Linked DNA regions of Homo sapiens. The protein of the gene in region 3 interacts with the protein of the main gene of each other region in a pairwise test. Each region holds a gene or a part of one and is shown on either strand. Other genes may lie near its edges.

Region 1 (3,500 bases), on a different chromosome or scaffold from region 3:
GCAAAAATTTTCTCCCATTCTGTAGGTTGCCTGTTCACTCTGATGGTGTGATTTGGTTTTGGACCCATGGTTGGAGACCATGGCATTTAGAAAAGTCCATGCATAGGCCTTTTTCCTTAGTGCCTGTGGCATTGCATGATGATGGCATTACCTTCTATTGGTATAAATAGTAAAACTGTAGGAAAGTGATTTGCCTGAGGTGTCCACGCAGGGGCACCCCTGGCGGGAGACCTGGGTCACTCTGACTTTTCAGGCGTCTCAGGCTGGGCACCAGGCAGTCCTGAATGCCAGCAGGACCTACCGAGTCAAATTGTTTTGGAAGGTTGCAGGGTTCAACCTCCCACTTGATGTCAAGCACCCCTTCTCTGCCAGCCTGAATGGGGTGCCCCAGCTTGCGTTAGAGCCATGGCTCTCAAAGTGAGGTCCTGGGCTAGCAGCATCCACATCACCAGTGTCACCTGGAGATGCAAAATCATGGGCCTCCTCCACACTCACTGAACAGGAATCTCTGCAGGTGGGCCCAAAGCATCTGGGTTTTCTCCAGCTCTCTAGGTGATTCAATACATGTTCCAGTTTGAGAACCATTATGTTTGAGCACTTTCTGGAATTGTGAGCTGTCTTCTCCATAAGGCAGCATTTCCATTGCTGGGCGGCACTCACTGGTCAGTGTTTTCCTTACATGAAGGCCATTGCTTGATTGTCTCCGCAGCTGCCCAGGATGTAGGCCCCTCCCCAGGATCGCCCTTTGTGTGTTTCAAAATCCATTCTCTTCTTGGTTCCCACTGAGTCTTCTCTTCCCCGGCTGAGAAATCCTGGGCCCTTCCACTCACCGCTGTCCTGTCTCGTTTGCAGATCCTTCTGGCCGGGCTTCAGTTCATCTGTATTCTGCCTGGAATGCAGCATTCCTTAGGTGGCCTGGCCGCTGCATACTCTCTCCCTTCCTCCTGGATGGCGTCCTTCTAGCCTCACAGCCTGAGATAGAATTTCTTTACTACAGTTGACAATAACTCCCTTTTACAGATGCTACTATCGCTGGTTGTTAGACTCTTAAAAATAAGTAAATATATATCATTTAGTGCTTTGTCAAAGTATGGCTATATGTATAGTTATATACAGTTACAGTTATATACAGTTACAGACTTCAGTAAAGTCAAACTTTACTAAAGTTATGATAAAGGGTGTTCACATGTAGCATCGTATTTAAACCTTGCAGGAACCCAGTGAGGCATGTGTTGTTCCCATTTTACACAGGAGGAAACAGGAGGCCCAGAAAAAAGTTAACTGAACACCAAAGATGACGTTGACCGGTACTGTTCAATAGAATGTTTGTAGTGATGGACATAGTCTGCCTTTGCACTGCCTGTTATGGTAGCTTCCTGTGGCTGTTGAGCATGTGAAGTGTGGCTAGTGGGACTCGGAATGCCATTTGACTTTTATTTAAGTGTAAGTTTAAATAGCCACACAAGGCTAGTAGCTGCTGTGTTAGCATAGTCTTAGATAAGTGCTGAAGCTGGGTAATGAAGCAGCGTCCATTTTCCCTAAATTCAATGATTTTTCTACCCCATCTCTCTAAAGAAAAATAGGAGACTATTAGGGCTTACTTTTTTCAATATTACAGAATCATACTTAATGATTTCAGCACAGAGTGAAAAAATTATATTGGGAGAGGGTTGCTTCTGCATGAATGGGAAGGATCTTTTTAGACTGTCAGCCAGCCTGGTCCAAGTTCCTCGCCTTATCTTTGTTCCGTCTGAGTAGTCGGTACCTGTGAATGAGTGTCTGCTCCCTACCCAGTGTGGTCAAGGGGGTATACCTGGGCCCAGGGGGTATACCAGAAGCCCAGTGCCTGAACTCAGAGAGCCTACCCACTGGTTTAGGAGACACAGCTGATTTGGTGAATCGATTGAGAGAGTATGTCACAGTTCCAAATTGCATGTCATGGTCTCCAGGGCTTTACAGTTGAGGACAAAGTGGGGATGAGGGAGGTTTGGAATAGCTGATGAAAGTCTTGTGAGATTTATTGTATAAGCCCAGAAGAAAAGGTATAGTTTTAAAAGTGAGGTTAATGGTGAGCGATTTCCATGTAGGACAAACTCAGGAAGAAATGGGAGATGAGCACTGGATGTTGTCAGGATGGAGAGACTCTCCTGACTCACACTGAGGGTCTGTTTTGGGGACAGATAATTAATCTTGGGTTGCCGGATCCACATGAGATCTGAAACACTGTAGATGTTAAAAAAGGTTTGGTGAAATGAGCTGGACTAGAGGATATTCCCCTATGGTGAATAAGGTGGGGCTATTTAAAGACAGTGAGAGTGGGCCGGGCACGGTGGCTCACAATTGTAATCTCAGCACTTTGAGAGGCTGAGGTGGGCATATCACCTGAGGTCAGGAGTTCAAGACCAGCCTGGCCAACATGGTGAAACTCCATCTCTATTAAAAATACAAAAATTAGCTGGGCATGGTGGCATGCGCCTGTAATCCCAGTTACTTGGGAGGCTGGGGCAGGAGATTCACTTGATTTCGGGAGGTAGAGGTTGCAGTGAGCTGAGATCACGCCACCCCACTCCAGCCTGGACGACAGAGTGAGACTCTGTCTCAAAAAAATAAATAAAAAATAAAAACAGTGAGAGTGGAGGGGAGGGGAGGGGAGGGGAGATTTATGTGCTTGCTAGGGGGAATACCCAGAGGTGAGGCTGCAAATTCAAAGGGTGGGGCCAGGTTTTGAAGAGGTTACTATTGGACCATGCTAAGGAATTTGGATGACATGAAATAAGCAATACCCATCTATTACCCTAATATTAATACCATAATATTCCTCCCTTTCTTTCAGGACCTCCATTAAAATATACAACAAGTATTTCTTTTTTTGTTTTTTTAAATTGAGACAGAGTGTTGCTCTGTCTTCCAGGCTGGAGTGCAGTGGTGTGATCTTGGCTCACTGCAGTCTCCGCCTCCTGGGTTCAAGCGATTCTCCTGCCTCAGCCTCCCAAGTAGCTGGGATTACAGGCACCTGCCACCACACCCAGCTAATTTTTGTATTTTTAGTAGAGACAGGGTTTTACCATGTTGGCCGGGATAATCTTGAACTCCTGGCCTCAGGTGATCTGCCCATCTTGGCCAGCCGAGCCACCACGCCTGGCCAAAATATGACAAATATTTCCTGAGTGTGTGCTATATGCTGACACTGTTCTTGGTGCGGGGGATATAACAGCGGACAAACAGGTGAGATCCCTGTTCTCCCAGAGCTTATATTCTAGTGGTGAAAGTGGTAAAAAAAAATACAATAAACAAATATACAAAATGCCAGAAAAGGCCGGATGTTATGAAGAAAACTAAAGCAAGGACAAGGGATAGAGAGTGACAGAAGTTACTACTTTGTTGGGTGGTCATCATTGGCCTTTCAGGAAAGGACCTTGAGTAGACACCTGAAGAGCAAGTCAGGGAATGATCCAAGCAGGTAACTCTGGAGGGGAGTGTTCCAGGCAGAGGGAATGGCA
Region 2 (3,500 bases), on a different chromosome or scaffold from region 3:
GCTAGAGTGCAGTGGCGCGATCTCGGCTCACTGCAACTTCCGCCTCCCGGGTTCACGCCATTCTTCTGCCTCAGCCTCCTGAGTAGTTGGGACTACAGCCGCCACCACGCCAGGCTAATTTTTTATATTTTTAGTAGAGACAGAGTTTCACCGTGTTAGCCAGGATGGTCGCGATCTCCTGACCTCATGATCCGCCCGCCTCGGCCTCCCAACGTGCTGGGATTACAGGCGTGAGCCACCGCGCCGGCCTATTATTATTTTTTAAAACAAGCATTAAAACATGCTTCAGTGCTCTTTCATATGCAAAGAAGCAACCCTGGGAGCCTGCGCCTTTTCCAGGCCCTCATGCCTTCAGAAGCCAGAGTGTGCTAGGAGCACCGGGGGTGAGGACATAGCTTCAGCCTGAAGCTGTTCACTGGAGGTATCTTCCTAGTGTGTGCAGTGGGCCTTACTCAGTTTCCCAACCCTCCATCTCAGAGAAAGACAAAACCAATTGGATATGGTGTATGTACTTGTCAAACTGTTTATTTGCCATTCACACTGATTGTAACACTGGATTTACAGAAGAAACTGTGGTACAAAGAGAGGAAGGCTCTGGTGGCTCCTGAACAGCAGCAGTCCAGCTGCCCTGCTCAGGCTGGGCACGACGAATGCTCCCAGGAGAGGGGAGGCGGCCCACCCGACTGTGTACCGTGGACTGTGGACAGTGCAGTGCCTGCTCTCCTGTGCTATCTAGAAACACCTTGGAGAGAGGGTTCTGGGATATTCTCTCATGTCATCTGGCTGAAGACACCAGCTTGACAGTTCCCCTTTAAGAAGCATTCCATACGTTTGTACCAGGGAGAAAGAAGCCCACGCACGAATTTTCAGGATGTTTTGTGACCAAACCCAATAACTGCCACACAAATAGACCCTAGGTGGGGGCTGGCTTAAATAGGACCACATTTCCCGTTGCTTTTTCAGTAGATGTGTTATACCGTCATTTCAATTTGAAAGTTTATTTTTTTCCATTGATTTTTATACATCCAGAATAACACAAATAACCAACAGTTCTTTTTCTTTTTTTGCACATTCATTTCCCCTAGAACAAAAAAAGTGAACTTAAAAAAAATTGGAACCATGCTATTAGCTGTTTACAAAAGTGAATAAGAAGTAGCTCATTTTAAAGTCTAAAATAAACAAAGTAGAAAGAAGCATTTTTTTCCCTACAGTATTTAGCAAACCTAAGAAAAAGTCCTTAGAAACACACACAAAAAAATTGAAAAAAAGTTATAGGCATTAACAATATTTTATAATGAAGCTTAAAATCTATTTACATACATAAATACAATTAACTTTGTTGATGCAACTCTTCTGGAAGGAAAAAAAGAGCCAAATGATCAGCCTCATCAATACTGACCTGGCTAAAAACAAAATTCCCAACAAACACACAAAAATCCCAAAACAAATGTATACGCTACGGTAAACAAAAAGGCATTTTGTTCAGATGTAAAATATGTTTTGTGAGATTATTGTCAAACAAATTTTCATGTATAAAAGACCCAAACATGTCATTCCCCCCAAAAATAAAAACCAACAAAAATAAAAATCATCAGGACGGAATGTCCCAAAGAAACAGGTATTTCAAGGCAGAAATCTGCAATCCTAAATTGCAGGACATTTGAGTGGAACCATTCATTTCCTTTCTAATCAGAGCATTTCTGTTTATCTGCACAGAAACCCAAGGCAGCAGAAAGGCTGTCTATTTACTCACTGATTGTGATTTGCCCAGGAAAGTTTGCTGGTTTGGACAGCAAGCAGATCCAATATGGTTGGCAATGTCTCTGTTCTGCTGGAAGAAACCCATAAACAGGAGAAAGGCTGACAAACCATGTTCCTTTATGTGAAGGGGGAAGAACTGGACCTTCTTGTGTTCTGAAATTTGGTACTGGGTGGGGGTATGTGCTATCTGCTTAAGAGAACACAGGAAAAGGAGGAGGGAGAAAGTGGGGTTTGGAAGATAGAGGAAGAGAGAAAAAAAGGGAGATATTGGGGGGAAGAGAGGGAGGGAAATGTATTTTCAGATAGTGAGAAAAAGAAAGAACTGAAATATGTATCCATGTTGAAATCATAAATAGGGACATGAGTAAGCAGTAGAAATGGCTTATTCAATACTTCTCCTGGACCAGACACATGCAGTTATTACATGATTGGCTTAAGGGTCTCATTGATACCTTAACTTTCCTGAGGGCAATGAATAAAAAGATACCTTAATCTACCTGAAGTCAATGAATGCAATTTTTCACACACACACACACACACGCACACACACACACATACAAAAATGTGTTGCGTGAGACCTATCGCCAAAACAACTACAGTTTGATTTTTTTTGAAACAATTAAATACTATATATGCTGGTAAGAGTCTGTGAAACTCTAAATGACCAATCCAGTGAGCCTACAATAGTGACAAGCCCCCTCCACACATGGCTTTGAGAGTAAAGGTTCAATGTAAAAGATTATCTAATCAGAGCATGAGGCTGGTTTTGAGTTGGAATATCTTCAGTTAACAGAATTAAACTGAAAAACATAATTTTTTCCTTCATTTTTCTCCAGCATTTTTGCAGGTCAGACATGGTAACATGTGCTGAAAAAAAACATTTACGTTTAATTTGGGGGAAATGGGCTAATGGTGCTTTTCAGAAATTAAATTTTTACATTTGCTGACATTTTATGGTAATTTAGCTGCAAAAATGTAATACGGAATAATATATGAAACTGAGTTGTGGAGGGAATCCTGTCAAAAATGAAAGTGAATATATTCTGAGTTTGTCCGAGATCTGCTATAGCTCTTCTCTAGATAAGAACGACCTGACAACATAAGCTGCTTTACTCTTTAACTCTTACCAAAGTGCTACTGCATGTGTGTAAAACAAATAATCAATATATATATAAGAAAACTCAAAAACAAGTTGTTTTAAATAAGTCCAGCTGTTTTTGCTGCCTGCAGCCAAAGATTTGCCTAATTTGAATGCTTAAATTTATAAAATAAAAATCAAACACTGTTCTGAAGTCCTGCTTTCAAATACTCTTCAGAGTTGACCTGAAATCGTTTCAACGAATTTTAAGAGGTACGTTAAATAACCACCAGATCATTTGGAGCACACATGTGTCAAAATCAGCAGTTAGTATTTATGAGTTGTACAACAACTGCATTCTGACCAAATCCTCCAATAAAAATAGTGCCATAAAATTTACAGCGACATTGGATACCTTTGAATTGTAGCCACGGACAGTAGTGACATGAATCTTTCCTGTCACACTGGTGCACAGGTAAAAGCCCATATACCCCATAGGGTAGGGTCTCAGCCTGGTGAAAGCAACACAAAGATGTTGTTGAGTGAGCAGCACAGGACAGGGGGTCTCGCACAGGTGGGACCATGTTTTCCCACTTGTCTCCACTGAGGCACACAGAGGCAAATTGACTCCTCGAGGCCTGCTTCTGGTGGGCCCTTAAAT
Region 3 (2,940 bases):
GAAGACGCATGCCACCACCTGGCTGATTTGTTTTTTGTAGAGACAGGGTCTTGCTATGTTGCCCAGGCTGGTCTCAAACTCCTGGCCTCAAGGGATCCTCCTGCCTTGGCCTCCCAAAGTGCTGGGATAACAGGTGTGAGCCATTGCGCCAGGCCCTCTGGGCACTTTTGGACAATCTCAGCTTCTTGGTGAGGCCTGAGGACAGGTGGGCAGACATGCTACCTAACTGGCACCTTGGCTGTTGGCTGGGTCGGTCCGAACGGATGCAGCAGGCATGTTCCCATTACCGGAGTTCACAGCCCTGAGTCTTCCCAGGTTCCTGTTGCAATCTGAGACTGAAAGGTGACCAAGACAATTCTCTCTTGAGCCGGGCTATTGGAGACGTCACAAAACCCAAAGCAGGCTTGTTAAATGCACCTGTCATTTATTCTGACTGAAACCAGGGACAGACAATCTCCATGATGCCACTGCTTTCAAAGATTTAGAAACCACAAAAACCATTTTGAGTTATATTATTACTTTATTTTCTTTTTTTAAAATGTAGCATTAAAGTCATCCAACATACAGATATTCCTATGGCTCCTGGCACATTTTACTCTCTCTAAAGTCAGGTATTTTAATTATGAGATGAAGAAAATCATCTCATTAAAATGGCAACATTTCTGATAAATGTTTCATATTTATGTGATGGGTAATTGACTCCCCATCTACCCCTCCAGTCCAGAGCTACAAAAGACAGTGCACAACCACAGCTAACAGGTGGTGGGGGTGCCCAAGTAGACAGGGCTGCAGAACAACAAGCAACGGGGTTAAACTTCTCAAACAACAAGCAACTTCTTTATTTGTACAGAGTAAGAATATAGAAGAAAAGCATCATTTTCCTTTTTAGCCCTTTTATTAGTGTTTTGCCTCCACCCAAGTTACTGCATACCAAGCAGCTAATAAAAACCAACTGACTTAAAGTCTCTGAAATGCATGCAACTTAAAATTCCCTAAAGCACACATCGGTTCCGAGTCTGATTTTTACAGGGCAGAGGCTACGGTGCTGCTGGGTTACCAGGGGTGTCTGTCATGCTGCTGGGGTTTGAAGTCGCTGCTGCTGTGGCTTCTGGCTGCTGGGTTTCTGTGTGGGGATCTTCTGCATTTCCAGCATTTTTCTTGCCCTTGTCTGCTGCCACGGCACCCATCTCCATGATTGCCTGCAGTGGCTGATCTGCTTCAAGGTTGCTGGGCTGGAGTTCATAGACCTGGACTTGACCTGGGACATCAATGGCTTTCTGTTCAAGTTTTTCCAAGATGGTCTGAACCTTCCTGACACCGTCTCTCCTGGCCTGACGCACATCGGCTCGTCCCTCGGGGTCCACTGAATCCAGGGCCAGCAGCTCTTTGGTCAAATACTCTTCGATCATCAGGTACTTTTTGTCAGTCTTCTTGCCTTCAAAGTTGTCTACAGCCTGCTCCAGCCCCTGTACCTTCTCCAGGATGGCTTCCACTTTCAGCACTCCTGGATGTTTTGGGGGAGCCTCGGCTTCTCCTGGTTTTGGAGGTGTAGCTTCTGCAGGGGCAGTGCTGGGGGCTGCCCTCTCTTCTGTAGCCACACTCTTGGGGGAAGAGGGGACAGCAGAAGGGCCAGGGCTGGGAGGAGGACAAGGAACTGGAGCAGGGGGAACTTTCACCTCTACCTTCTCAGAGGGAGGTGGGGGCTTCTGGGAAACAGGTTTAGAATCCACCTCTTTGCGGATCACTTGAATTGGGATGTGTCCAGGAGGGAGTTCTGGTCCAACTGGGCCTGGCTTACTTTCTGGTTTGTTTTCAGGCTGGGAAACAGGTGCAGTTTCTCGATGGGTCATGGGCTGCTGAAAAAAGGACACAAAAATATATTTTTAATAACTGACTGAAAGTCACAGAAATTGTTTGTAGCTAGTACAGATTAGAAAGAAAACTGAGAAATGGCTTTTTAAAAAAAGTTTAATAGTATAAAAGATTTTCAAAGTCAATCAATGGCTGTTACAAAATAAAAACATGGTATTAATCATGTATGTAACCCAATCATTAGTCAGGCTTCCATTGATCACCCCAGGCTATTTGTCTATTACCTCTCACTGAATTTCTCTGTAGATGGTATTCTTAATGGCAATGAAAAGAAACCCAATAAAATTTTCAAAAATGAAAATAGCTAACCTGGGCAATATAGTAAGACCCCAACCCTACAAAAAATCTTTAAAAATTAGCCAGGTGTGGGAGCTTGCACTCGTAGTCCCAGCTACTCAGAAGGCTGAGGCGGAAGAATCGCTTGAGCCCAGGAATTCAAGGCTGTAGTGAGCCACGATTATGTCATTGCACTCCAGCCTGAGTGACAGAGCGAGATCCTGTCTCAAAGAAGGAAGGGAGGGAGGGAGGAAGGAAGGAAGGAAGGGGGGAAGGAAGGAAGGAAGGAAGGGGAGAAGGGGGCAAGGGGGAAGGGGGCAGGAAGGAAGGAGGGAAGGGGGAAGGGGGAAGGAAGCAGGGAAGGGGGGAAGGGGAAGGGGGGAAGGGAGGGGGAGGGAAGGAGGGAAGGAAGGAAGGAAAGAAGGAAAAAAATAGCAAAAACTCATGCTGACTGCTGAACTAGGCTGACTCAGAGCAGAGTCCTGAGTGACTCCAGCTCTCAGGTGTTGCAGCCTTGGAGTCGCTGCCTCTGGTCCTTCTTCCTTACACTGTGCAGACAGTCTGCTCACGGTGTGATCTTCTTGTCTCCTGTTTTAGAAAAGATACGATCTTCTTTTTTTAAAACCGTGACAGCCTAGTAGTTTCTGCCCAGACCAATGTATTTTTTTAGGATTAGCCAAGATGCTCTAAATGGTTAACTCCAGAACAATTTTGCTTCAGGATAGCTGTGCTGTAGCCTAACATTCAGCAATGACACAGCGCCTCTGTGCTAACCTCTGGCTGCACAGGTTT
Region 4 (3,500 bases), on a different chromosome or scaffold from region 3:
AACAAATCATATTTGGACAGTCTGGAAAATAGCCCGTAAGGTTCAAAGTGAAGTGTTCTTCTCAAAGGACTGAAATATTCCAATACCATCACAAGCATGTGGGCAGGTTTTACTTATTTTCCCGTAGACTTGAGACTTCAGAGGCCATTTAAGCCTTCGGGTAAAAATAGGCTGGGCAGCAAGTGGGCAAATGGTCTGTCAGGGTACAGCAAAGGAAAGACATGAGTAAATGTACATCATGACAAAGAAGATAAGAAACAGGCTGTGAACTGGGAAAGATGATTAGTGTGTAAAGTGCTCCCTGGATTCAATGGTAACTAACAGCTTATCGACAGGAAGCCTAGATGTAAATACACCACCACTAGAGCACTGAAGGGCACATTTTCAGGTAGACCAGGCATTAGACAGTATCGGCCCTTAGTGATGAGCATCGTTAAATACAGCAAAGTTAGCATCCGGCTATGGGATGCTAACAAAGGAAAGCCACCTCTCCTCAGTCACAAGCCAATACCTTTCCAACTTTACCAAACCACTTCCTGAGTCGGATTCACAGGGTCCTTTACCAGATGTAAAAGCTTGATATTATCAACTAAATGCCTGTGTCCCCCAGACTTCCTATGTTGAAATCTAATCCTTAATGTGATGGCCTTTGGAGGTAGGGCCTTTGGGAGGCGATCGGGTCATGGGGGCAGAGCCTCCGCGAATGCAATTTATGCCCTTACAAAAGGGACCCCAGGAAGTTAGCGAGCTCTCTTTCCACCACATGAGAAGAACAAGCAGTTGGCAGTCTGCTGCCTGCAAGAAGGCCTTCCCCTGAACCTGACCATGCTGGCATCTTGGTCTTGGACTTCTAGCCTCCAGAATGGTGAGAAGTAAATTTCCATTGTTTACAAGCCACCTAGTCTACGGCGCCTTGTTAAAGCATCCCCAACTGACCAAAACCCCTGATCAGGGGAAACAAACTACCAAGGGAGTGCAGCTCACTTTCCTGGAGATTCTTAAACTTTTGAGGAAAACATAAAATCTTGTCAGGAGCCCAATGTACAAGATGGAAAAAACAAATATTGTACAGTTACAAGAGTTATTCGTCATAATTCAGTGCAATAGCACAGGCTAATTTCCTGTTAAACCCTCTAGGCTGTGGCACTGGGTTACAGCATCTGGGCCAGAACAGCCAGGCCAGTGAGCCAATGCTCTGAAGGCCTGCAGTGTCCACCTGGGGAGAGCACCTGGGGGCAAGCAGAAAGTCTGCGTTTCGAAACTCCAGTAGATTTTGCCTCAAATTCAAAATGCTAGCAAGAATTGTGGAGAAATGTCCCAGTATTAAAGCCAAGTTCATGTTTTCAGGTTAAACACATTCTAAGTCAAATCAAAAAGCAGGGAAAAAAAAAAAAACAACAACTTCACAGAGGTGGTAAAAACTATGCAGAGAGGAAATGATTAGTATAAAAGTCAGGAATATGGAAAACTTCCGAAAGGAGGAAAGTACATCCGGAGCTAGGCTGTTTCGGGGGTGTGAGTCCATTTCTCGATCTGGGTGATCAAGGGATGTTCTAATTATCTGTTTCACTGAACTTCTGTGCACTTTTCCGTATTACAATTCCTACTAAAGAAATGCAAGAGGAAGCGCCACATGCATACCTCTAGAATGACATCCATGCTCATTACAGAAATCAAAGCAATGTTAACAGCCTTCATACAATCATGGCAACTTTCCAAATATTTCAGAATGTTCAGTGTTTTGATTTACTCAAGACAGGGTAAACACAAGTGACTTTAGCTGTGAAACAGGCTTTTCATGAGGATGAGTGATATATGTAAAGACCAGTGCCAGACATGTAATAAAGAGTTGCTCAGTAAGGGGCAGCTACTGTCCCCTTCTTTCTGAAAGAGCCCGGTGCCACCAGTCTGTTCTCTGGAGAAAGGGAAAGGCACTCGGTACTGACTCCAGAATGACAAGGCACTGGGCATCTTCTGCTATCAGGCTTCTTCCCAGCATTCAGCCATATTGGAAGTACTAGCTTGTTAGTAAAACACTTTTAAAAACTTTAGAAATCTTAAAATCGCTGCATATTCACAGGAAGTTGTGAAGAAGAGTCCAGGGAGTTCCACACGCACCCTTCACCCAGCCAGCTCTAATGTCAGCACCTTGCGTAACTAGTGCAATATCAAAACCAGGAAAATGACACTGGTCCAATCCAGACCTTATTTAGACTTCAGTTACACTTGCACTTATTTGTGTGTGTAGCTCCGTGCGACTTTACCATACGAGCTGTTGCACGTGAGCACAGCACAATTCAGTGACACTTAACTGCACCATTGCAAGCTCCCCCTTGTGCTACCACTTGCAAGTCACACTCACCCCCTCCTCCCATCCGTAACCCCAGGCAATCACTAATGTGTTCTCCCATTTCTGTACCCTCCTCCACCTCCACTTTTGTGCGTCACTCAGATAAGCTATCAATAGCACCTTTATTAACTAAGGTTCAGTTTGTTACTGTGAAGTACGATACTTTATTAAGACTATGCCTTCCTGAAAGCTGTCACCATTACACTTTAGAGGTGGCAGTCCTGGTGGACTCAAAGAATTTATTTAGTTCACATTCACCTGTGAGAATAAAGATCCAACTCCTCTTGCCCAAGATCCAAACCCTGATATCTTGGTATAAAACTCACATATATGTTTGGACAACACTGAAACTTCAAAGAGCAGGGAAAATGTCTCACGATTTGGAATGCCTTTTGATGCACCCAGTAGAGATGCACACAGGAGGCCTTCACAGGCTGCAGAAACTGGAATTTCAACTGAGTACTTTGCTTCCTTTAACCTTAATTATAACAAAAGAGCAGACTGCTGCAACTCCTAAGTGATACTTGATATAAAGTCCCATCAACCTTGACTAAACAGAGACCTCAACCTTCTTGTGCATCACACTTGTGATGACTGCCTTTTCAAAAGCTTTAAATTCTGCTTACTTACTGAACCACACTCTGCCTCAGACCATTTCGCAACTGGTTTTTGTTCATCGTAGGATTCCATTCCTGCTTGTCCAGATGTGTTGACACAAAATTATCCACTTTCTGCCTCAGGTTTTGGTAAGCTGGCTAAAATGTTAAAAAGAGGAGGCAAGGTCAGAAGTTATATGCACCAAAGTTTTGAACTTAGTCTCTCAGAACACTGCTTTTCACAGAAACGTTATTAAGTCTAAATACACTTCCACTGTGCATGAAGATCACCATGCAATGTGGCAGTCAGGAATTAATGGTTAACACAAGTGCCCACCTGATGGTGGGTGGGCACAATGCCAGGCGCTTTACTTATATTATTCCATTTGCTTTTAAGTAACTCTACATGCAGCAGGCCTGACATCAACCCACAGCCTGGACCCACACCTGGGCAGCCTGCAGCCAAGCCACCAGCTGAAGCCTTCCTAGCTCAGCTGAACTTTGGTAGACCTGCCGCCCCATGAACATGTGAACAAGTGCTGGTTATAAGCTGC
Region 5 (3,500 bases), on a different chromosome or scaffold from region 3:
GCTTCACGCTGGGGCAGGGCATGGACCTGGGGATGAGGAGGTGTCAGGGGGACACAGAGGACTTGGCTCCCCCACCCCGACCCCCGTGCTTCACGCTGGGGCAGGGCGTGGACCTGGGGATGAGGAGGTGTCAGGGGGACACAGGAAAACATGGTTCCTCGTGTGCCCAGGGGTGTCTGCCTCCCACCAGGAGGGGCCTCGGGCATGGGGCCCTGGAGTGACAGGCAACGCAGCTCTGCGCTCACGGACACGCAGGCCCGGCCAGTGCCAGGATGGGGTCAGGAGCCCCGGGGCTGTTCTTCACAGAATTTAACTTGAGTCTCAGTCAGAGCCACCCTCACGGACGTGGAGAACGCAGGGGAGAAGCAGCCGAACCTCCTGGGGACAGTGAGGCCGGGCGCCCAGACAGCACGGGGCTGTCTCCTCGCCAACTTTCTATAAAATGGAAGCGAGAGTTTTGATCCCACAATTTAAAACTCCGCACCAATTTCAAATTACCTATGTTCCTACTGCAGTGAGCTGAGACTGCACCACCGCACTCCAGCCTGGGCCACAGAGTGAGACTCTGTCTCATAAAAAAACAAAATCCTCTACTCTTCGTGGAATCTCTAGCTGCTTTATTGTAACTGATTTGTATTTATGGGACACATTAAGTGCCTGTTGAAAAAATAATTTTTATTTTCTTTCCATGACGGGCGATGACAAAATCTCAGACACTAATTTGTGGTTTGTTCTACAGCCGTTCAGGTCCTTTACTCGGAAGCTGCTCAGAGGGAGACTGAACGTGGCATAACAACAAGGAGTGGGGCGTCCTTCCCAAAGGAAGCACAGGTGCTCTCCGGGGCATGCGAGGCAGCACCAGGTCATTCAAAAGAGGCGAGGGTGGCTCTCTGCTCAAAGGAAGAGCTGGACACAGACAGGGCCTCAGGGAGGCCAAGGCCATGGCCCAGGCATCCAGACACCCTGTGGGGTCTGCACCCCCCCACCCCCCTCTCAGGTGCAAACTGCAGACAGGAGGCAAGCCAGGCCAGGCACAACCAGAAGGCCGGGCTGGAGCAAGGAGGAGAAAGGGGCTTCAGAGGCAAGCAGGCTGCGAGGTGCCAAACCCACAAGCCAGACCCAGGGGACAGCTGGGGCTCAGGCGGTGGAGGAAGGTCCTGTGTGCACCCTGGGCAGGGCGACCCTTGGGTTGTTGGCCCTGGGACTCAGCCTAAGGACCCGGCGTCCCAGCTGCCAGCTGTGAAGACAAGATTGAGCCCAGGTGACGACAGTGCCTGAGCCCCTGGCAGCTTGGGTGAGGAGACAGCATGCAGCCCACAGGCTGGAGAGCGTGGCTGCAACCAGAGGCACGGGTGGGGCACACGGGGGTCCCAGCTGGGCTTGGGGTCCCTCCTGCAGTGCTCCGTCCCCTTGCCTGGCAGAGGGGCCCCGGTAGGGGACTGCATGGGAGACACTGAGCGTAGGTGGGGAGGCCCATCCCCAGGACAGACGCGTGGGCCTCCATGGCACCTCCCACAGCCACTGTGCTTGGAGATGCCCTCCCCTCCCGGGGATGATGGTGCCACAAGGGCAGCCCTCCCATTAGAACCCCGGGGTGGGCAACGCGAGCCACGGGCCGGGAAGGACGCCCACCAGCCGGAGTCCTCTGAGCACGGTCCCGCAGGCTCACCTGTACTGGAACCGCCGGGGGTTGCGCCGCCTGTCCCGGCTATTGTGGTAGTGTGGGCACGCATAGCCCTGGCGGCACAGGCGTGGCGGCTTCGGGCACTGCTCCGTCTTGTAGCTGCCCAGCACGAAGTTGGCATCTGAAAAATGGGCCACACGGTGCCTGAGCAGCGCGACTGGAAGCAATGCTGGGCAGAGGAGACCAAAGGTGGAAGGACCTGGCTGTCCCCCAAATGGAAGGGGCTGCAGGAGGACTTGGGGAGCGCAGACACACGCCACGGCACACGCTGATGTCAAAGGACTCGCGCTCCATGAGGGAAGCCGGGCCAGAAGGCCACGTGGTGTGATTCTGTTTATGTGAAAATGCCCAGAACTAGGGAACCCACAGAGACGGAGTGGAGCCGAGACCACCAGGGCTGGGAGGGAGTCCTGCTGTGGGTGTGCGGCTTCCTTGCTGGGGGATGAAAATGTTCTCCAACTAGAGAGAGGTGATGTGTGCACAGCTTTTGAGAATATGCTAAAATCCAGAGACATGCACACCCCGAAATGCCGCATGGTGAGCCTCATGCGCACCACAGCCTCTGGGTGACAAGCACACATCAGTGTGGGTTCACTGTTGGTAAAGAGCGTACCTCGCAGTGCAGGAGGTGCACGGCAGGGGAGGCTGAGGGGGCAGGGGGTGTTTGGGAAATCTATTTTTCTACTCAGTTTTGCTGTGAACCGGAAACCGCTCTAAAAAATAAAGCCTATTTTTAGAAGTCATTCACTGGGCCGGACGTGGTGGCTCACGCCTGTTATCCCAGCACTTTGGGAGGCCGAGGTGGGTGGATCACAAGGTCAGGAGTTCAAGACTTGCCTGGCCAACACAGTGAAACCCCGTCTCTACTAAAAATAAAAAATTAGCCGGGCATACTGGTGCCTGCCTGTAATCCCAGCTACTCAGGAGGCTGAGGCAGGAGAATTGCTTGAACCTGGCAGGCGGAGGTTGCAGTGAGCTGAGATTGTGCCACTGCACTCCAGCCTGGGTGACAGAGCGAGACTCCATCTCAAAAAAAAAAAAAAAAAAAAAAAAAAAAAAAAAAAAAATCGCTGCCATACGCAATGTCCAGAATACACAAATTCACAGAGATGGGATGCAGGCCAGTGAGTGCAGGGACCAGGGAGGGGATGGGGAGGAACTGCTCATAAGCAGGGGGGTTCCTTCTGCAGGGATGGAATGTTCTGGAACTAGAGAGAGGTGGCAGCTGCACAACACTGCAGACGTGCTAAATGCCACTGGACTGTACACTTAAAAATGGTGCATTTTATGTTGTGTGTATTTTACATTTTTTTTTTTGAAACGGAGTCTCACTCTGTCACCCACACTGGAGTGCAGTGGCGTGATCTTGGCTCACTGCAACCTTCACCCCCCGAGTTCAAGAGATTCTCCAGCCTCAGCCTCCCAAGTAGCTGGGATTACAGGCGCCCACCACCACAACCGGCTAATTTTTTGTATTTTTAGCAGAGACATGGTTTCACCATGTTGGCCAGGCTGGCCTCAAACTCCTGACCTCAAGTGATCTGCCCGCCTCGGCCTCCCAAAGTGCTGAGATTACAGGCGTGAGCCAGTGCTCCCAGCCTTACCACGTTTTTTTTCAAATCAAAATCTCCCCTGCATATAACCTCATCTGTGTGCCAGCCAGGAATGCAGGTCCCCCAGCCCCGAGGGACAGCCCCCTGGTCCATATGTTTCTGGCCAAGCTCAGGGATTTGAAAGCTGCTGTCTAGAGCACCACCCCAGAGAGGCGCAGGGCTGGGGGCTCTGCTGGGCATCCTGGTGGGTGCCTGGTGGGCTG
Region 6 (3,393 bases), on a different chromosome or scaffold from region 3:
GGAGGCTGAGGCAGGAGAATCGTTTGAACCCGGGAGGCAGAAGTTGCAGTGAGCTGAGATTGTGCCACTGCACTCCAGCCTGGGCGACAGAGCGAGACTCCATCTCAAAAATAAATAAATAAAATAAATAAGTAAATCAAAATGAATGCAAAAAATTTGTGGTGGACAAACTGTCAACATTTTACATAAAGCCAGGATGAGGACGACGGCCTTCTCCTTTTGCTTCAAGCTCCAGCATGGCTCTGCCCAGCACTGACCGTGCTCCTGGCCTGGCTCGACCCTCCCCAGGGCCAAGCTCCATGCTGGTTTCCATCCCAAAGGACTCTTCTTCCCCCTCCCTGTGCCCCGGGAATAGGCAGCCAGCACAGTGGGGCCGCCCGCTGCCTCACCCAGACCCTGCCACTGCTTGGATGTTGACCCCCAGACTGGAAAGGTGGCTTTAAACCCCCTTCCCTTCTTCCAAGCCAAGTGACCTGGGTGTGCGGCTTAACCTTCTAAGCTCCCATTTCCTGGTCTATGAAGCGGGAATGATGCTGGGACCTGCTTCACAGGGTGGCTCTGAGGACCCACAGGCAGAGAGGTCTGGTGTAGGCTTTCGGGGGAAGCACCCATCACTCTCCCAGCGTTTCCTATCTGCACCTTAATTTGGCACCCCAGGGAATCGCTCCTCTGGAATTGTAACCTTGCAGGGCAAAAGCTATCATTTCAAGATTTTTTGGGATCCTGTGTCCCCGGACAGTGCTGTAAATGTAGGAGGAAGGGTGCTGCTCATGGGTGCTGCTCATGATGGAGGTGCCCCGTGGAGCACGCCTCGGAGCCCCCCCTTTCATCCCTGATCCCATCTGGGATGTGTCAGGTCTGATCCGCATACACTGGGGCATCTGACATTTCATGGCCTTCTGAGCCCATGGGCTGGAGATGAATTTGCAAAGCCCGGGAGTGTCCTGGGTGTGTGTTCACTCCACACGCACGAATCTGTTAGAGGCTGAGTAGGAACTAGGAGGCCAAAGAGAACCAGGCAACTTCCCACAGCCTGGACCGTACACTAGAAAAGCTAGCCTGGGAGAGGGGGCATGGCCTCTTCCCAGGCTGGCAGGGGGGATGTGGGGGAGGACCATGCTCCCCAGGGCCAGTTTACCAAAATATCAAAATACCAAAATATCAAAAGACTTAAAACTAGGAGTGAGCCAGGTGCAGTGGCTCACGCCTGTAATCCTACACTTTGAGAGGCCAAGGCAGGTGGGTCACCTGAGGTCAAGAGTTTGAGACCAGCCTGGCCAACACGGTGAAACCCTGTCTCTACTAAAAATACAAAAATAATAATAATAATAATAATAATAATAATTAGCCAGGTGTGGTGGCAGGCACCTGCAGTCTCAGCTACTCAGGAGGCTGAGGTGGGAGAATTGTTTGAACCTGGGAGGCAGAGGTTGCAGTGAGCTGAGATCGCGCCACTATATGATCTGGGCGCCACTCTGGGTGACACAGCAAGACTCCATCTCAAAAACAAACAAACAAAACCGGGAGTGCCTGGACACTTAGTGAGAACTGGACAGGGGCCATGGGTCGAGGAGCAAAATAATCACCAGGACTTGTGGATAACAGGATCATGTGGGTGGTGGGTCCGCATGGGTGACAGGGACGTGGGGACATGTCGCCACCCTGACAGGAGCAGCCCAACTCAACAGCCACGGCAGGTCATGCCACGGAGGCTCGAGGCGTTACGTGGGGATGTTACATCAAGGCATTACATCATTACGAGATGTAACGCTCGAGGCGTTACATCGAGGGGATGATGGCCATGGGGCTGGGCGTCCAGGGTGGGCCGCAGAGGGAAGCTCACCACGTGGTGCTCTCATCTGCCCACAGCCCAGCCCGTCTTCCTGTTGGAGGCATGTGACCCCTGGAGGACAAGCATGAAACGCCATAGGGCTCCCCCAGGTGCTGGAATTATGGCACCTTGCAGCTTCTTCTCCACGAGTTTTAACAAGCATGCGTACTTTTGTAAGTGGTGAGTGTAACGGAGGTTCACAGATGCACTCCGCTTTGGAAACCAGTGCACTCTTGCCCAGGCCCGGTGAGACTCTGACGACGATGTGTCTAACCTCTGTGTCTAACGGGGGTGTGGGCTCTCCCTCCTCTGGCGACCATGAGGACCACCCCGGCAGGACAAGGTGTGCAGAGAACTAGCATGGTCCCTGGCACGTAGCCCCTGCCCAGTGACTGGCAGATGAGAAGCTCCATTGTCGCCCCAGGCGAGTATGGGGCACAGGCGCCTCCTTGGGTTGTCTGCCCTCCCGGGAGCCCCAGGGTGCCCAGGCGGGCCTCAGCTGAGTCCAGGCCTCGGGGACAGTCCGTGCAGCCCCTCCTGGGGCTGGGGGCGGGCACTTGTCCCAGCCACGTTTCTGCTGACTGAGCAGCCTTCTTCATGAGCTCACGCCTTTCCAGAGAAATCCCTTAATGCCTCCATTCTGCTGGTGGCATATATAGGGAGGGCTCGGCCTTGGCTCCACACTGCGCTGCCCAGAGGCCCCGCTGACTCCTGCCAGCCTCCAGGTCCCCGTGGTACCAAAGCTGAACATGGATGTGACCATCCAGCACCCCTGGTTCAAGCGCACCCTGGGGCCCTTCTACCCCAGCCGGCTGTTCGACCAGTTTTTCGGCGAGGGCCTTTTTGAGTATGACCTGCTGCCCTTCCTGTCGTCCACCATCAGCCCCTACTACCGCCAGTCCCTCTTCCGCACCGTGCTGGACTCCGGCATCTCTGAGGTAAGACGTGGCCCGTGGTGCTGGCCTCTCCTCGCTGCTCAGAGGGTGGTGGCCTCGGTGGGTGGAGAGCGATGGACTCTGGTCTTGCTCCGTCAGGCAGGTGGCCTCGTCCCACTTCATCCCCTTGCAGAGGCTGGGCGAGAGCCTGTGTCCCCACTGCAGCCACGTGGTAGAGCTTCCCCTGGCACTGGGGAGAGGGTGGACAAGGGAGCAGCCTGAATCCACCTTTGCTTTCCTCCATCAGCTCATGACCCATGTGTGCTTTGTAAGGCACCAGCCACATACTGGAAACCCCAAGAGCAGCCCATCCAGGCATGCGTGGTGGCGAATGCCAGCTCCCGGGTTCCTCTGGTCTCCTGAGTCCCGGAGACCTGGGAGCAGGTGGGGGTCATAGTCCTGAAAGCCAGAGAGCAGGGCGTTCCTAGCACCTCCTCCAATGAGCTCGGCCTGCCCACGGCTAGCAAAGCTCTTGGCAAGTTTACTTAGGTGCCCTGCCAAGGCTAAAAGGACAGGCAATGGACGCCCCCCCCCCCCACCCAACCACAGGCCTCCTCTCTGAGCCACGGGTGAGCGGTGCAGGTTCTGCTGTTCTGGAGGGCCTGAGTCCCACCCAGCACCTCATAA
Region 7 (3,500 bases), on a different chromosome or scaffold from region 3:
AGGCTTAGCTGTTCACTGGTAGCAGCAAAAATAGGCCCTTGAGTCCAAGCTAGACTTGAATTCTGATTCTTCCAGACTTTGTGCAGTGAAGTCAGATGAGGGTAACAGGACCTAGCGTGTGATACCCTTAGCACTCTTACTACTCTTGCTAAGTAATTATGTGATTAGAGTTTGGAATGAAACTTCCAGAAATGTTATAATTGAGGCTTGGCGCGGTGGCTTATGCCTGTAATCCCAGCACTTCGGGAGGCTGAGGTGGGTGGATCATGAGGTCAGGAGTTCGAGACCAGCCTGGTCACCATGGTGAAACCTTGTCTCTACTAAAAATACAAAAATTAGCTGGGCGTGGTGGTAGATGCCTGTAATCCCAGCTACTCGGAAGGCTGAGGCAGGAGAATCGCTTGAAACGGAGGTTGCAGTGAGCCGAGGTCGCGCCACTGCACTCTAGCCTGGGCAACAAGAGTGAAACTCTGTCCCCCTCCAAAAAATAAATAAAAATAAAATATATAATTGTTACCTATCAAAATTCTGAGGGAAAGCCAGGCGTGGTGGCTCACACCTATAATCCCAGCACTTTGGGAGGCCGAGGCGGGTGGATCAACTGAAATCAGGAGTTCAAGACCAGCCTGGCTAACGTGATGAAACCCCGTCTCTACTAAAAATAGAAAAATTAGCCAGGTGTGGTGACACACACCTGTAATCCCAGCTCTTCGGAAGGCTGAGGCAGGAGAATCGCTTGAACCTGGGAGGCAGAGGTTGCAGTGAGCCAAGATCATGCCATTGCACTCCAGCCTGGGCGATGAAAGTGAAACTCTGTCTCAAAAGACGACAACGATAAAAAAAACAAAGTTCTGCGGGAAGAAGACAACTAGAGACATGCTGTTGGCCACACATAGTGCTCTTGGGGCTGCTTAAGTCTGTGGAGTTCTGGGGAAGAAGGTAAGAGCGATGGCTTTGCAGGAGCTCTAGTGATTGTCGCTACTTCAGTTGATGACATGAGATTGTTCTTTATTTTTCTTCAGCTGGTTTTCCCATGGGCTATGCAGCAGCAGCTCCTGCCTATTCTCCTAACATGTATCCTGGAGCGAATCCTACCTTCCAAACAGGTATGTGCTGGGTGGTAAAATGCTTTGTACGTACAGCTGGGAGAGAAAGGTGAAGGGGTGGATTTTGAGAGGGGTGGGTATAGAATTAGGACTTGGTTGAGTCGATTTCTCAAGTTCATTAAGTTAGCCTGTTGATAAGTGCAACAAAAGCTTAATTCTTACTGCACTGAAGCTTTATATACTGTGTTTCTCATGTCCTCCCACAAGGCAAATCTGTAATCACTAGGTTGTTAACTCTGCCAGAGCATCTGTTCATGAAATAGTATCACCTACTAGAAATTGAAGAATTTCTTGCCATGCCAACAGGTGGAATTTCCATGTTAATGTTTTTAGAGATAATTTTTGGTTAGACTACTTTAGCACTCTGATAATATTTTTTAAAAAAGTATTATTTTCCATGTAATGTATAGATGAATATTTTTAGATTTTGGAAATCACTGTTAATATTAAAAGTGGAATTGGTTTGGGTCTGAATCTTGAGGAGATTGGTTATTTAGTGGGATTTCCTGCTAGGAGCCTGCACTCTCTGGTGTTGGTTCCTTTTGGACTTTTTTCACCCACACGGGGCTTTGCCTTTCTGCCGCAGCAGTGGTGGTGCACACTCTGATCTGAGGCTGTGGTTTGGCCTTAATCCTGGGACTGCTGGGGCAACTTTATCCCTCAACAGTAGCTTCACACAGTTAACTTTGACAGAGGAGGAGACAACAGCAGTGTCCTTTCCCCAGATTCTTCCTGTTTTGTTAATCATAAAATTCTGCCTTTATATTCTGTCCTTACATCCATCTCTTCGTTTCCATTTCCACTTCCACTATGACCCTATATGACCACCCTTGTTCAGACCGTAGTTCACACCCTGAGAAAAACGTTCTTGACTTGGTCTTCCTGCTCCCAAGCTTTCTTTCCCCGGGTTAGTGTTCTTCCCATTTAAACCAGAGCGATGCTCCCAGATGAATTTTTCTCAGTGGTTTCCCATGACTGTGAGACACAGTTATGCCTAGAGTCTCGACTTTCAGTCCCTAGCTGTTTGCCATATTGGCCCATTTTTTCCCTTTAGAGTGGTTTTCCTTTTGTGTTTTGCCTTGAAAGAACCATCCATCTCGTAGTGTATATTAGCAGTTCATTCCTTTTTATTGTTAGGTAGTATTTTGTTGTATGGAAATAAATACTTCAGTTTGCTTATCCATTTACCATGTGATGAACATTTGGGTTATTTGCAATTTTGGGCTATTACAAATGAAAATGCTATTAATATTTATATGCAGGTTATTGTGTGAACATACACTTTGATTTCTCTTGAGTAAATAAATACAGAGGATTTGAGTGGCTGGTTATTATGGCAAGTGTATATTTAACTTTGTGAGAAACTGCCAAACTGTCTTCCAAAGTGGTGGTACCATTTTACATTCCTACCAGCAGTGTTTGTGAGTTGTCGTTCCTCCACATCCTTAACAACACTTGGTGTGGTCAGTCTTTTTAATTCTAGCCATTCTAGTGAATGTGTAGCAGTATCTTTTCATGTGCGTATTTGCCTTCTGTATGTCTTTGGTGAAGAATTTGCTTTTACTGTATGTCAGTTATTGTTTTCTTATCGTTGAGTTTTTGAGAGTTCTTATCAGATATATGCGTGTTTTCTCCCAGTCTGTGGCTTTTTCATTCTTTTAACAACGTCTTTTAAAGAGCAGGGGTTTTAAAAGTTTAGGCTGGGCGCGGTGGCTCACGTCTGTAATCCCAGCAATTTGGGAGGCTGAGGCGGGTGGATCATGAGGTCAGGAGTTCGAGACCAGCCTGGCCAACGTGGTGAAACCCCGTCTCTACTAAAAATACAAAAATTAGCTGGGCTTGGAGGCGCACTCCGGTAATCCCGGCTACTAGGGAGGCTGAGGCAGGAGAATCACTTGAACCCAGGAGACAGAGGTTGCAGTGAGCCGAGATCGTGCCATAGCATTCCAGCCTGGGCGACAGGGTGAGACTCCGTCTCAACCAAAAAAAAAAAAGTTTGATGAGGGTTAGTCGTTTTATGGATCATGCTTTTGGTACCATACTTAATAAACCTGTGTAACTTGGCTGGGCGCAGTGGCTCACGCCTGTCGTCCCAGCACTTTGGGAGGCCGGGGTGGGTGGATCATGAGGTCAGGAGATCGAGACCATCCTGGCTAACGCGGTGAAACCCCCTCTCTACTAAAAATACAAAAAATTAGCTGGTCATGGTGGCGGGCTCCTGTAGTCCCAGCTACTCCAGAGGCTGAGGCAGGAGAATGGCCAGAACCTGGAAGGCGGAGCTTGCAGTGAGCCGAGATTGCGCCACTGCACTCCAGCCTGAGCGACAGAGCAGGACTCCGTCCCCAAAAAAAAAAACAAAAGAGAAAGAAACCTGTGTAACCTAACTTCACAAAG

What was found.
Region 1: the proteins of BAG3 (region 3) and RETREG1 interact in binary tests that used the Homo sapiens proteins (3 or more experiments, as listed by UniProt).
Region 2: the proteins of BAG3 (region 3) and RUNX1 interact in binary tests that used the Homo sapiens proteins (3 or more experiments, as listed by UniProt).
Region 4: the proteins of BAG3 (region 3) and BOD1 interact in binary tests that used the Homo sapiens proteins (3 or more experiments, as listed by UniProt).
Region 5: the proteins of BAG3 (region 3) and UNKL interact in binary tests that used the Homo sapiens proteins (3 or more experiments, as listed by UniProt).
Region 6: the proteins of BAG3 (region 3) and alpha-crystallin A2 chain interact in binary tests that used the Homo sapiens proteins (3 or more experiments, as listed by UniProt).
Region 7: the proteins of BAG3 (region 3) and FAM168B interact in binary tests that used the Homo sapiens proteins (3 or more experiments, as listed by UniProt).

What each region holds. Positions count from the first base shown.
Region 1 is NC_000005.10:16,606,998-16,610,497, reverse strand, and holds part of RETREG1 (reticulophagy regulator 1), read left to right. Parts: intron 1-3,500. UniProt on the Homo sapiens protein: Endoplasmic reticulum (ER)-anchored autophagy regulator which mediates ER delivery into lysosomes through sequestration into autophagosomes.
Region 2 is NC_000021.9:34,787,303-34,790,802, forward strand, and holds the end of RUNX1 (runt-related transcription factor 1), read right to left. Parts: 3' UTR 499-3,500; downstream 1-498.
Region 3 is NC_000010.11:119,675,380-119,678,319, reverse strand, and holds the end of BAG3 (BAG family molecular chaperone regulator 3), read right to left. Parts: intron 1,857-2,940; coding exon 1,038-1,856; 3' UTR 501-1,037; downstream 1-500. UniProt on the Homo sapiens protein: Co-chaperone and adapter protein that connects different classes of molecular chaperones including heat shock proteins 70 (HSP70s), e.g. HSPA1A/HSP70 or HSPA8/HSC70, and small heat shock proteins (sHSPs), e.g. HSPB8.
Region 4 is NC_000005.10:173,610,151-173,613,650, forward strand, and holds part of BOD1 (biorientation of chromosomes in cell division protein 1), read right to left. Parts: intron 3,106-3,500; coding exon 2,981-3,105; exon of another isoform or gene 2,977-2,980; intron 1-2,976. UniProt on the Homo sapiens protein: Required for proper chromosome biorientation through the detection or correction of syntelic attachments in mitotic spindles.
Region 5 is NC_000016.10:1,397,705-1,401,204, forward strand, and holds part of UNKL (putative E3 ubiquitin-protein ligase UNKL), read right to left. Parts: intron 1,806-3,500; coding exon 1,670-1,805; intron 1,238-1,669; coding exon of another isoform or gene 1,138-1,237; exon of another isoform or gene 597-1,137; intron 436-596; coding exon of another isoform or gene 376-435; intron 1-375. UniProt on the Homo sapiens protein: May participate in a protein complex showing an E3 ligase activity regulated by RAC1. Ubiquitination is directed towards itself and possibly other substrates, such as SMARCD2/BAF60b. Intrinsic E3 ligase activity has not been proven.
Region 6 is NC_000021.9:6,558,203-6,561,595, forward strand, and holds part of alpha-crystallin A2 chain, read left to right. Parts: intron 1-1,869; 5' UTR 1,870-2,580; coding exon 2,581-2,769; intron 2,770-3,393. UniProt on the Homo sapiens protein: Contributes to the transparency and refractive index of the lens. In its oxidized form (absence of intramolecular disulfide bond), acts as a chaperone, preventing aggregation of various proteins under a wide range of stress conditions.
Region 7 is NC_000002.12:131,069,461-131,072,960, reverse strand, and holds part of FAM168B (myelin-associated neurite-outgrowth inhibitor), read left to right. Parts: exon of another isoform or gene 1-939; intron 940-1,022; coding exon 1,023-1,106; intron 1,107-3,500. UniProt on the Homo sapiens protein: Inhibitor of neuronal axonal outgrowth. Acts as a negative regulator of CDC42 and STAT3 and a positive regulator of STMN2. Positive regulator of CDC27.